Regions from separate parts of the Homo sapiens genome. Here regions 2 and 3 are each reported to be linked to region 1. The links are microRNA targets in miRTarBase. Many come from high-throughput screens and were not tested one by one. Region 1 holds a microRNA gene; each other region holds the end of a gene's coding sequence.

What was found. Region 1 holds the annotated microRNA hsa-miR-6855-3p (AGACUGACCUUCAACCCCACAG, at 2,316-2,337, opposite strand). A microRNA usually pairs through its seed, bases 2 to 8, with sites in the 3' UTR of a target mRNA and lowers its output. Matches are read on the target gene's strand: a 7mer-m8 pairs with bases 2 to 8, a 7mer-A1 pairs with bases 2 to 7 and ends in A, and an 8mer does both.
Region 2: the mRNA of KAT6B is a reported target of hsa-miR-6855-3p. Seed matches in the 3' UTR shown: 8mer at 1,747-1,754.
Region 3: the mRNA of ZNF440 is a reported target of hsa-miR-6855-3p. Seed matches in the 3' UTR shown: 7mer-A1 at 1,130-1,136.

What each region holds. Positions count from the first base shown.
Region 1 is chr9:129,868,635-129,871,986 of GRCh38, reverse strand. MIR6855 (microRNA 6855) reads right to left here and starts at 2,382; the gene lies at 2,316-2,382. USP20 (ubiquitin specific peptidase 20) reads right to left here. Exons shown (of 26, transcript NM_001110303.4): 12 at 2,985-3,125; 13 at 2,562-2,677; 14 at 2,143-2,315; 15 at 1,440-1,534. RefSeq lists an enhancer at 1,268-1,767.
Region 2 is chr10:75,030,465-75,033,816 of GRCh38, forward strand. It overlaps KAT6B (lysine acetyltransferase 6B), which reads left to right. Exons shown (of 18, transcript NM_012330.4): 18 at 1-2,160. The coding sequence ends at 582. Among named protein-coding and RNA genes, the nearest start is that of SNORD172, 10 kb to the left of the region's middle. RefSeq lists enhancers at 1-160, 2,781-2,830.
Region 3 is chr19:11,832,581-11,835,580 of GRCh38, reverse strand. It overlaps ZNF440 (zinc finger protein 440), which reads right to left. Exons shown (of 4, transcript NM_152357.3): 4 at 365-3,000. The coding sequence ends at 2,617. Among named protein-coding and RNA genes, the nearest start is that of ZNF439, 15 kb to the left of the region's middle.

The sequences.
Region 1 (3,352 bases):
CCCAGCACTTTGGGAGACCAAGGCAGGCGGATCACCTGAGGTCAGGAGTTCAAGACCAGCCTGGCCAACATGGTGAAACCCCATTCTACTAAAAATACAAAAATTAGCCAGCCGTGGTGGCATGTGCCTGTAATCCCAGCTACTCGGGAGGCTGAGGCAGGAGAATCGCTTAAACCCAGGAGGTGGAGGTTGCAATAAGCCGAGATCATGCCATTGCACTCCAGCCTGGGCGTCAAGAGAGAGACTCCGTCTCAAAAACAAAACAAAACAAAACAAAAAAAACGCACAATGAGATACCACCTCATACCCATGAGGTTGACTCCCATCAAAAAAGTAAACAAAATGAGTGTGGACGACGATGTGGAGAAACTGGAACTCTTGTGCGTCACTGGTGGGAATGTGAAATGGGGTGGCCACTGTGGAACCCAGTACGGTGGCTCCTCGAGAAATTAAAAATAGGCATAGACCCAAAGGGATGAAAGAAGAGAGGTGTGCACACCCATGGTCAGAGCAGCATTCCTCACAATAGCTAACAGGGAAGCGGCCTGAGTGTCCACTGACGGATGAACGAATAAGCAGAAAGGCCCCAGCCATCCACACAATGGAACAATAAATAACCAGCATACAAAAGGCAGGGCATTCCGACACACACGCTGCAACGTGGATGAACCCTAAGGACGTTATGCTCAGTAAAAGCCGTCAGTCACAAAATGGCAAGTACTGTATAATTCCACTTCTATGAGGCCTTTAGAGTAGTCACATTCACAGACTTGAATGTGGAGGTTGCCAGGGGCTGGGAGGTGGGAGTAGGGAGCTGTTTCACGGATACTGAGTTTCAGGTTTGCAAGATGTAAAAGTTCTGGAGATGAATGGGGAGGATGGCTGCGTGACCATGTGCATGTATTTAACACTACTCGACTGTGCACTTTCTGTTAAAAACAGCATTTACAATGGTTATGGTGGTAAATTTTACATTTTGTGTATTTTATCGCAATTGAAAATTGGAAATAAAAAAAAAAGAGAGAGTTTTCCCAAAGGTTTAGATGCCAAATAGCCAACGGAGAAAAAGAACAAGAACAGGAATGGGCAATGTTTAAATAAATACATAGAGCCAGTATATTTAACAAAAAATGTAGAAACTCATCAGTAATCAAGGAAATGAAAAATTAACATACATCATTTTTGCCCACCAAATTGGTAAAAATAAAAATAAGTGAACACTCAAGAGCTGCAAGATGATGGGGTTGGGATAGCACATGGCCCTGGTCCAGCGTGGCTGGCAGTGGGCGTGGGTATCTGATGGGATCAACCTTGGAAGCCAAGTCTAGCCTGGCTGTGCATCCCACAAGCCCTGGGCTGCATGCTGGCCTGCTGGGGTCTGCACATCCCCGTCCCCACAACCCTCCACCTCCCCGACCCTTGCCAGCCAGGCCCCTCACCCTTTAACTCATCAGCGGCAAAGAAGGCAGCAAGGCAGTCTTCCAGGGTGACGACAGGCCCCCAAAACCAGCTGGGGGTACAGGATACCACAAACCTACAGACAGAAAAGGAGTGCAGGGGTGCTGCCAGGGCCTGGGCAAGAACAGGAGCTGAAGGGACTCTGGCTGAGGTCTGTCAGGCCTGAGCCGCAGAAGGACCCTGAAGGCCCAGAGAAGCAGCCGGGCACGGCGGGTCGGGGCAGAGGCCTGGAGCCAGACACGTCCGTGTCCTGGGCCGAGTGACATCATCTCTCCGCAAGCCTGGCCTCCTTCATCTGTGTTGCGGCCATGATCATGCTACCCCCTCCCTGGGGTCATGCGGGTCTCTGGCCTCAGGCAGGAGAGGCAGCCCTGGGAAAGCTGCTGCCCTTCCCGCCAACCAGGCCTGTGTCCTGCTGCTGCCCTCCCTTCAACCTGCCATGTGGTCACCTCCCTGCTGTCCATCGCCCTCCAGCTCCAAGGGACTATCCAATCCTGGCCACTTCAAAGTAGCCAAGAAATCCCCTGCATATTAAGCCAACTCCTCTGCAGGCTTCGGCCCCCAGCTCCTCCCAGGACCTCCCTGGTTCCCCAAATGCATGGACTTCACTGTGTACTGTCTCCCGCCCAGGAAAACCAGGACAGGCCCAGCCCATGTCGCCCAGTAGTGGCAAGGTGGGCGCACCGTCGGATGTACTCCACAATGAAGGCCAGCCAGCCCTGGGCGGCATAGCTGTCCCCACAGGCGCCTGGCTTGGCCGGCACATTCTGGTAGATGGCTGAATGGAGCTTGGCCAGGTCCTCCTTTCCAGGAATGGGCAGTGATAAGTCCTGGAACGTTTCCACTGTGGTGGATACCTGTGGGGTTGAAGGTCAGTCTGCTGCCCATCCTCTGGCAATGTCTGCACCCCAAACCCCAAGCAGCAGGTGAGGGGCAGAGGGACTACTCCCCAGGCCATAGACACGGGATCCACGCAGGCAGGGCCCTCCCCTGGATAAAAGCAGGGAGCACCCGTGGAGAGCCCACCCTGCACCCAGTCAGGGCAAGAGCTGCTGAGGCCACTGGCAGCCTGGCCCAGCTCCCCCCATCCCTGGGGCACCCACCCGGTCACAGGTGAGACACTGCACAAGGCTGAGAATGGAGCCGTCAAAGATGTCTGAGATGACGCTGCGGTAGCGCTGCTCCTTCCGCCTCCGGCTGCCAGCACTCAATACCTGGGCTGGGGACACAGCACAGGACTAGCCCAGCCTCCACCTGCCTGGCCGGGGCGAGGTGCGGGCCCTGCGGCTTCCTTTGACAGGATGTGGAGTGACATCCGTGAGTCACATGACTGGGTAAGCAATTCACCATCTCATGCCTCTGTGTCATCCTCTGCAAAACGTGGCTCCCACACTGGTGTCTCAGGGGTGTACCTGAGAGGAGCCCATAGCCCGGCCCTCCGCCACAGGGGGCCATGAGAAAGGCAGCTACGGGCGTAATCTGTACTCCCAGCCTCAAGCTGACCCACCCTCCCGTGCCCCCCGAACCTTTCTTGAGCACGTACGACGGTGCCATCCTCACGGGGCTTGCACGAGGGGGGCTGCTAGACAGCTTGGCATGGCCCTCGTGGTGGTGGACGGGGCTGCAGGGGCGAGAGGAGCTGCGTAGGTGAGCATCATTGTCCGGCTCTGGGGGCAGAGAGGGTACCATGCTGGGCCAGGGCAGCCAGGCCAGCTCCACGAGTGGGCAGGAAGATGACCTGCCAGCCCCTCCTAAAGGGACGAAAGCCTGACCCTAATGTGTCTCCTCTGTCATGTGCCCACTCCTGGCCCCAGCACACAGGCCGGAGCAGACCTGTCCAATCCATGTCCGGCTGGAAGGCTCAGGGCTCTGGGAGAGGGCTCTGAATTGGGCT
Region 2 (3,352 bases), not on the chromosome of region 1:
CCCCCCAACCTGACTCCTCCTCCAATGAATCTGCCGCCGCCTCTTTTGCAACGGAACATGGCTGCATCAAATATTGGCATCTCTCACAGCCAAAGACTGCAAACCCAGATTGCCAGCAAGGGCCACATCTCCATGAGAACCAAGTCAGCGTCTCTGTCACCAGCCGCTGCCACCCATCAGTCACAAATCTATGGGCGCTCCCAGACTGTAGCCATGCAGGGTCCTGCACGGACTTTAACGATGCAAAGAGGCATGAACATGAGTGTGAACCTGATGCCAGCGCCAGCCTACAATGTCAACTCTGTGAACATGAACATGAACACTCTCAACGCCATGAATGGGTACAGCATGTCCCAGCCAATGATGAACAGTGGCTACCACAGCAATCATGGCTATATGAATCAAACGCCCCAATACCCTATGCAGATGCAGATGGGCATGATGGGCACCCAGCCATATGCCCAGCAGCCAATGCAGACCCCACCCCACGGTAACATGATGTACACGGCCCCCGGACATCACGGCTACATGAACACAGGCATGTCCAAACAGTCTCTCAATGGCTCCTACATGAGAAGGTAGACAACGTGGGCAGTCCACAAAACCTACGGGGCATCACTATTGGATTGATCTGCACAAATACCTTTGAAGAGTACGATTTCAAAACCAGCAATTGGTGTGAATGCAAAAACATTTGTTGGCACCATTTATTTAAAAAAAAAAAAAGCTGTATGCAGCAGAAAGCCTTATACAAGTTGTTTTTCTTTTTTTCCTTTTTCTTTTTTTTGGTACCTTCATTTCTGTTACTTTTATATAAAATTCTCTGCAAAGGAAGGCCTCTCTTTGGACTACAATTTGGAGGCAGCCACTTGTTGTGCCTGCTTCTGTTAAACAATGTGGATATCAAGCCCCCCCAAATTATCTGTTTTAATATTGAACCTAGAGCTTTTTTTTTCCCTTCCCTGTCCACTCCATGTAAATGCCTTTAGCATTTCAGTTATTGTATATTTTGTTTAAGGTGACACTTCAGCATGCCGCTAATGTCTTTGTTAGTGACAGTGCATTTTGTAGTACTGTACAAGTGTTGTGCTAACAGTAAGCCATTTCTTAAGTTTTTTGCCTTGATTAGGGTGCCCTAATTTGAGGGTTTTAAAAAAAACTATATTTTTGTTAATTATAAAACTGTAAAGAGCTATAAAAGCTATTCCCATTTGGTTAGTCAAAAGGGTTTTATTGCTAAATGTTTGGTGTAAAGTTGAGACCCTTTTCCATTTTGGTGACAGATTTCTTTGGGGAAAAAAGGCAGCTTTCTGTTTTATAAATGCAGACTTCTGTTTATTGAATGAAGCATATCTCAGTGTTTATCTGTCAGGTTTTGAAACATTTCATATATGTCCAAATACTTGGCAGGATTTAAAAAAAAATAGTGAATTTGGTGTAAAGTTGCTATTTTATGGAAATGCCTCTAACTTTACATTTTCATTCCATCTGTAGATTTTTCTATCTTTATAAAATATTGGAGTTATTTTTTAAGGAAAAATAGAAAAGTAGCTTGTGAATAGCTCAAACTAAGCTTACAAATCGCATGTAAAAAAGCAAAAAAGTTATTTGTGTCTGTTTATATTGCTTCCTTTTTTGTAGCCTTTGTACCTGTACAGGGTGACAGTAAGGGCCAAGCAGGAGAGGCGTAATCCTTGTATAAAATAGGATCCAGCGACACTCTTGTATTTATCTGTTCTCTTTTTAGTCAGTCACTTCAAAAAAACAAAAAACAAACAAAAAAAAGCTGTACATTTTAACATAAAATAAATTATGATGAGCCATTTTTAGCCTCTTGTGTCCTGTCATATTATGATTGATAGAGAATGACCAATGGAACTGTATCATGTGTCACGCCTCAGAACACATACACATTTTGGGAAAATAAATTATTTAGTGTAAATTGGAGTTATGGGATTTTCTGATTTGTTTTGACTTTGGGGGAGGGGTTGGCAATAAATAAGAGTAATATCTAATAAAACCATCACATATACCAAATACCTATTTAATAAATTAATTTATAATGGATTTTAATGCTTTTCATGAAAGTTTATTTTATGCGAGTGCATACCTTCTGTATGCCAATCATTGTCTTTAAAATAAAGTGAAATTGTTTTTTTCTTTTGGACTTTGATCTTCATTTGCAAAGAGATCCCGCACAAATATCCAGCTGCCTCACTCGCACAGTCTGTAGAAACATCCCTCCAAGCCTCGCACCAGGGTAGCAAACTTCCTTTTTATAAAGATTCATACCAAAAAAAGCACCCAATTTGGGATTGTATGTTTGAAAAATCATTTTCTTTTTAAAAAGTGTGAACGTTTTGCTCTGTTGTGAATGATTAATTGTATGTTTTCTTTAGAGTCTAAAGTTTAGACCCCCTGCCAAAAGTGAATATTCACAAGTATAGCGTTCAGAGAAAGTTCTGAGTGTTGCTTGAATTTGGTTATTTGAGCAACAAGTCTAGAAATGAATGCTTGACCTAGCACCCGTGTGAAACTAGCCCGTTAAGCTCTCCAGGTGTCTGAACACGTGTGCTCGCAACTCCTCTGTTAAGCAGGTCACTACCCTGTGGAGGAAAAAAGTTGCTTTTGCACTGTTGATTCAACACACACACACAAAAATTAGATGTTTTACAAAGCATAGACATAAGCCTTAAAGTGGACCCAAAATCGTGCAAGGGCAGGATAGAGCGTACACACCAGAATAAAAGGCCTTGTGCAGACAGAGGGTGCCCAGTGGAGTTCTGCCTTGTACTCTCACCCTTATCGTTATTTTCTTTCACAGTTACAAAGTGTATTGGGTTTAGTGTCACAATTTTATCTTTTAGTCCCTTCCTTCCTCAACTGCAAAGTCAATGGGGGTAATATATGTAACAGCTGAGGGAGGGCTTTCAAGAAGACACGTCTGAAGGGCCGTCAGCACAAAGGGAAAAGATCCATTTAAGCTGCTGTGCTAATAGGAAAAGAAACCTATCAGCCATCCTCAGAGTAGGAAGTGGTGGTCTATGCCTGCACAAATCGAACACTGCGTCCATTCAGGAGTGGCCAAGGACTGGGCAGCCCAGTGGGCCACACATCGGGCAAGAGGCTGCCCGAGCCCTGGAGGTGGGGTTGGGGCCTGGAAGCAATCTGATCGGGAAGCAGAGCCCCGAACGGGCTCCGACCTGTCACATATTTTGTCTCTTTCCTCTTGGGTTAAGATTCTCTGGGGGCTGAGATTCCCCTCTGTGTTCCCTTTGGCCATGACCTGCTAATCACACCTTGTGGTTTGTGCGATGTCTGAGTTCCCATACCCTGCCAGCCTAACAGCCCT
Region 3 (3,000 bases), not on the chromosome of region 1:
TATGACTCAGTAAAGCAATTTGAAAAAATATAGCTTTATAAGGCATAAACAAATTTATATGTTTTAACTAAGGTACTTTCTGGTAAACAGTGCCTGTACATTTTAGGAAATATTTTAGTCTTTAGAGAATAAGTAAGGCAAAAACAGGTCCAGGAGTTTACAGATGCCCTCCCCTCACCACAAGGCCAAGTCTTTTTTTTTTTTTTTTTTTTTTTGAGATGGAGTCTTGCTCTGTCGTCCAGGTTGGAGTGCAATGGCGCGATCTTGGCTCACTGCAAGCTCCACCTCACAGGTTCACACCATTCTCCTGCCTCAGCCTCCCAAGTAGCTGGGACTGCAGGAGCCTGAGACCACGCCTCACTAATTTTTTGTATTTTTTAGTAGAGACTGGGTTTCACTGTGTTGGCCAGGATGGTCTCCATTTCCTGACCTAGTGATCCGCCCGCCTCGGCCTCCCAAAGTGCTGGGATTATAGGCGTGAGCCACCGCACTCGGCCCTAAGGCCAAGTCTTTTTTTGTGTTTTTTAAGACAGAGTTTCACTCTTGTTGCCCAGGCTGGAGTACAATGGTGCAACCTCGGCTCACTGCAACCTCTGCTTCCTATATTCAAGCAATTCTCCTATGTCAGCCTCCTGAATAGCTAGGATTACAGGAGCATGCCACCACGCCCTGCTAACTTTTGTATTTTTAGTAGAGACGGGGTTTGATCATATTGGTCAGAATGGTCTCTAACTCCTGACCTCGGCCTCCCAAAGTGCTGGGATTACAGGCGTGAGCCACCATGCCCAGCCAAGGCCAAGTCTTTTATTGTTGGAGAGACACGTGTCACATACCAGGCATATGAGACGATGCTCCTCAGTGACCATGATGAATCAGGACAAAAACAAGGGCATTTTGTAACTATATTTTTAAATGTGATAGAGGAAAACGTATTTCAAATCATAAACATGACCAAAATTTTTCTCTTCTTACTAATGTGACTTGTAATTCTCATACATCTCACAGTCATTTATGGCTTTTGGTCATATTTATCACTATGGTATATTACACCCTTGCTGACAGCAGGTATGGCACTGCTGGTTTTGGGGAAGAAGGCACTCAGAGGTGCATGAGATAACTATTGGTATTATGACTGAATGAAAAATTAGGGTTGCAGCTGGGCATGATGGTTCATGTCTGTAATCCCAGCATTTTGGGAGGCCGAGGTGGGTAAATCATGAGGTCTGGAGTTTGAGACCAGCCTAGCCAATATGGTGAAACCCCGTCTCTACTAAAAAATACAAAAAATTAGCCTGGCATGGTGGCGCATGCCTGTAGTCCCAGCTACTCAGGAGACTGAGGCAGGAGAATTGCTTGAACCCTGGAGGCAGAGGTTGCAGTGACCTGAGATCATGCCACTGCACTCCAGCCTGGGTGACAGAGTGAGATTCTTTCTGGGGGAAAAAAAAAAAGAAAGAAAAATTAAGGTTGAGATAAAAATGTAAGTACAGAAGCATGAAAAGTAAAATTTTCGAATAAAAAGATGTCTGGCATTTTATCCACATGGTTATACTGACTCACAATGTCCAAATAATAACAATTTAACAGTATAAGGCTGATCTAATACATGACACCAATGGGATATTATAGCTTCTTATTTAAAAAGAATATCATTTGTTAGTATACAGTTATTATAAACAGTTAATTGTTTACATTCATTATCTGTATTCAAAGAATCTTGTCAGGTCTGAACGCTTTCCCATACTGCTTACATTCATAGGGTTTTTCTCCAGTGTGAGTCCTTCCATGCATTTGAAGGTGCGAGGCTGATCTGAAGGCTTTCCCACATTGCTTATATTCATAGGGCTTCTCTCCAGTGTGAGTCCTTTCATGATATTGAAGGGAACTAGAAGAAATGAAGGCTTTCCCACTTGGCATACACTCATAGGGTTTCTCTCCCATGTGAGTCCTTTCATGATATTGAAAAGAAGTGGAAGAAATAAAGGCTTTTGCACATTGCTTACATTGATAGGGTTTCTCCCTAGTGTGTTCTTTCATGATATTGAAAAGAACTGGAAGAAGTGAAAGCTTTGCCACATTGCTTGCATTCATAGTGTTTCCTTCCAGTGTGAGTCTTTTCATGTCTATGAAAGGAAGTAGGCAAGCTGAATGCTTTTCTGCATTCTTTACATTCATAGGGTTTCTCTCCATTGTGTGTTCTTGCATGTATTCAAAGGATCTTGGCAGATATGAATGCTTTCCCACAATGCTTACATTCACAGAGCTTCTCTCCTCTGTGCATCCTTTCATGTATTTGCAAAGAAGAGAAATTATGGAATGCTTTTCTACATTTCTTACATTCACAGGGTTTCTCTCCAGTGTGTGTCCTTTTATGAAATCGAAGATTTTTGACAGATCTGAAGGCTTTCCCAAATTGCTTACACTCATAGGGGTTCTCTCCAGTGTGAGTCCTTTCATGATATCGAAAGGAAGTGAAGGAAACAAAGGCTTTCCCACATTGCTTACACTCATAGGGTTTCTCTCCAGTGTAAGATTTTTCATGTATTTGAAATGACTTGGCAGAATAAAAGCCCCTCCCACATATCTTACATTTATAAGGTCTCTCTACAGAGTGCATTATGTGTGTTTGTGTCCTTTCATGAATTCGAAGGTTCTGGGCAGATCCGAAGGGTTTCCCACATTCCTTACATGCATAGGGCTTCTCTCCATTGTGTGTCCTACCACGTATTCAAAGGTGTGGGGCAGATCTGAAGGCTTTCCGTCATTGCTCACACTCATAGGGTTTCTCTTCAGGGTGAGTCCTACCATGCATTCAAAGGATTGACACAGCTCTGAAGGCTTTCCCACATTGCTCGCATTTATAGGGCTTCTCTCCAGTGTGAGTCCTTTCATGATATCAAAAGGAACTGGAACTACTGAAGGAACTACTGAACGTTGCTTGCATTCATAGAGTTTCTCTCCAGTGTGAGTTTTTTCATGTCTTTGAAATGATTTGGGACA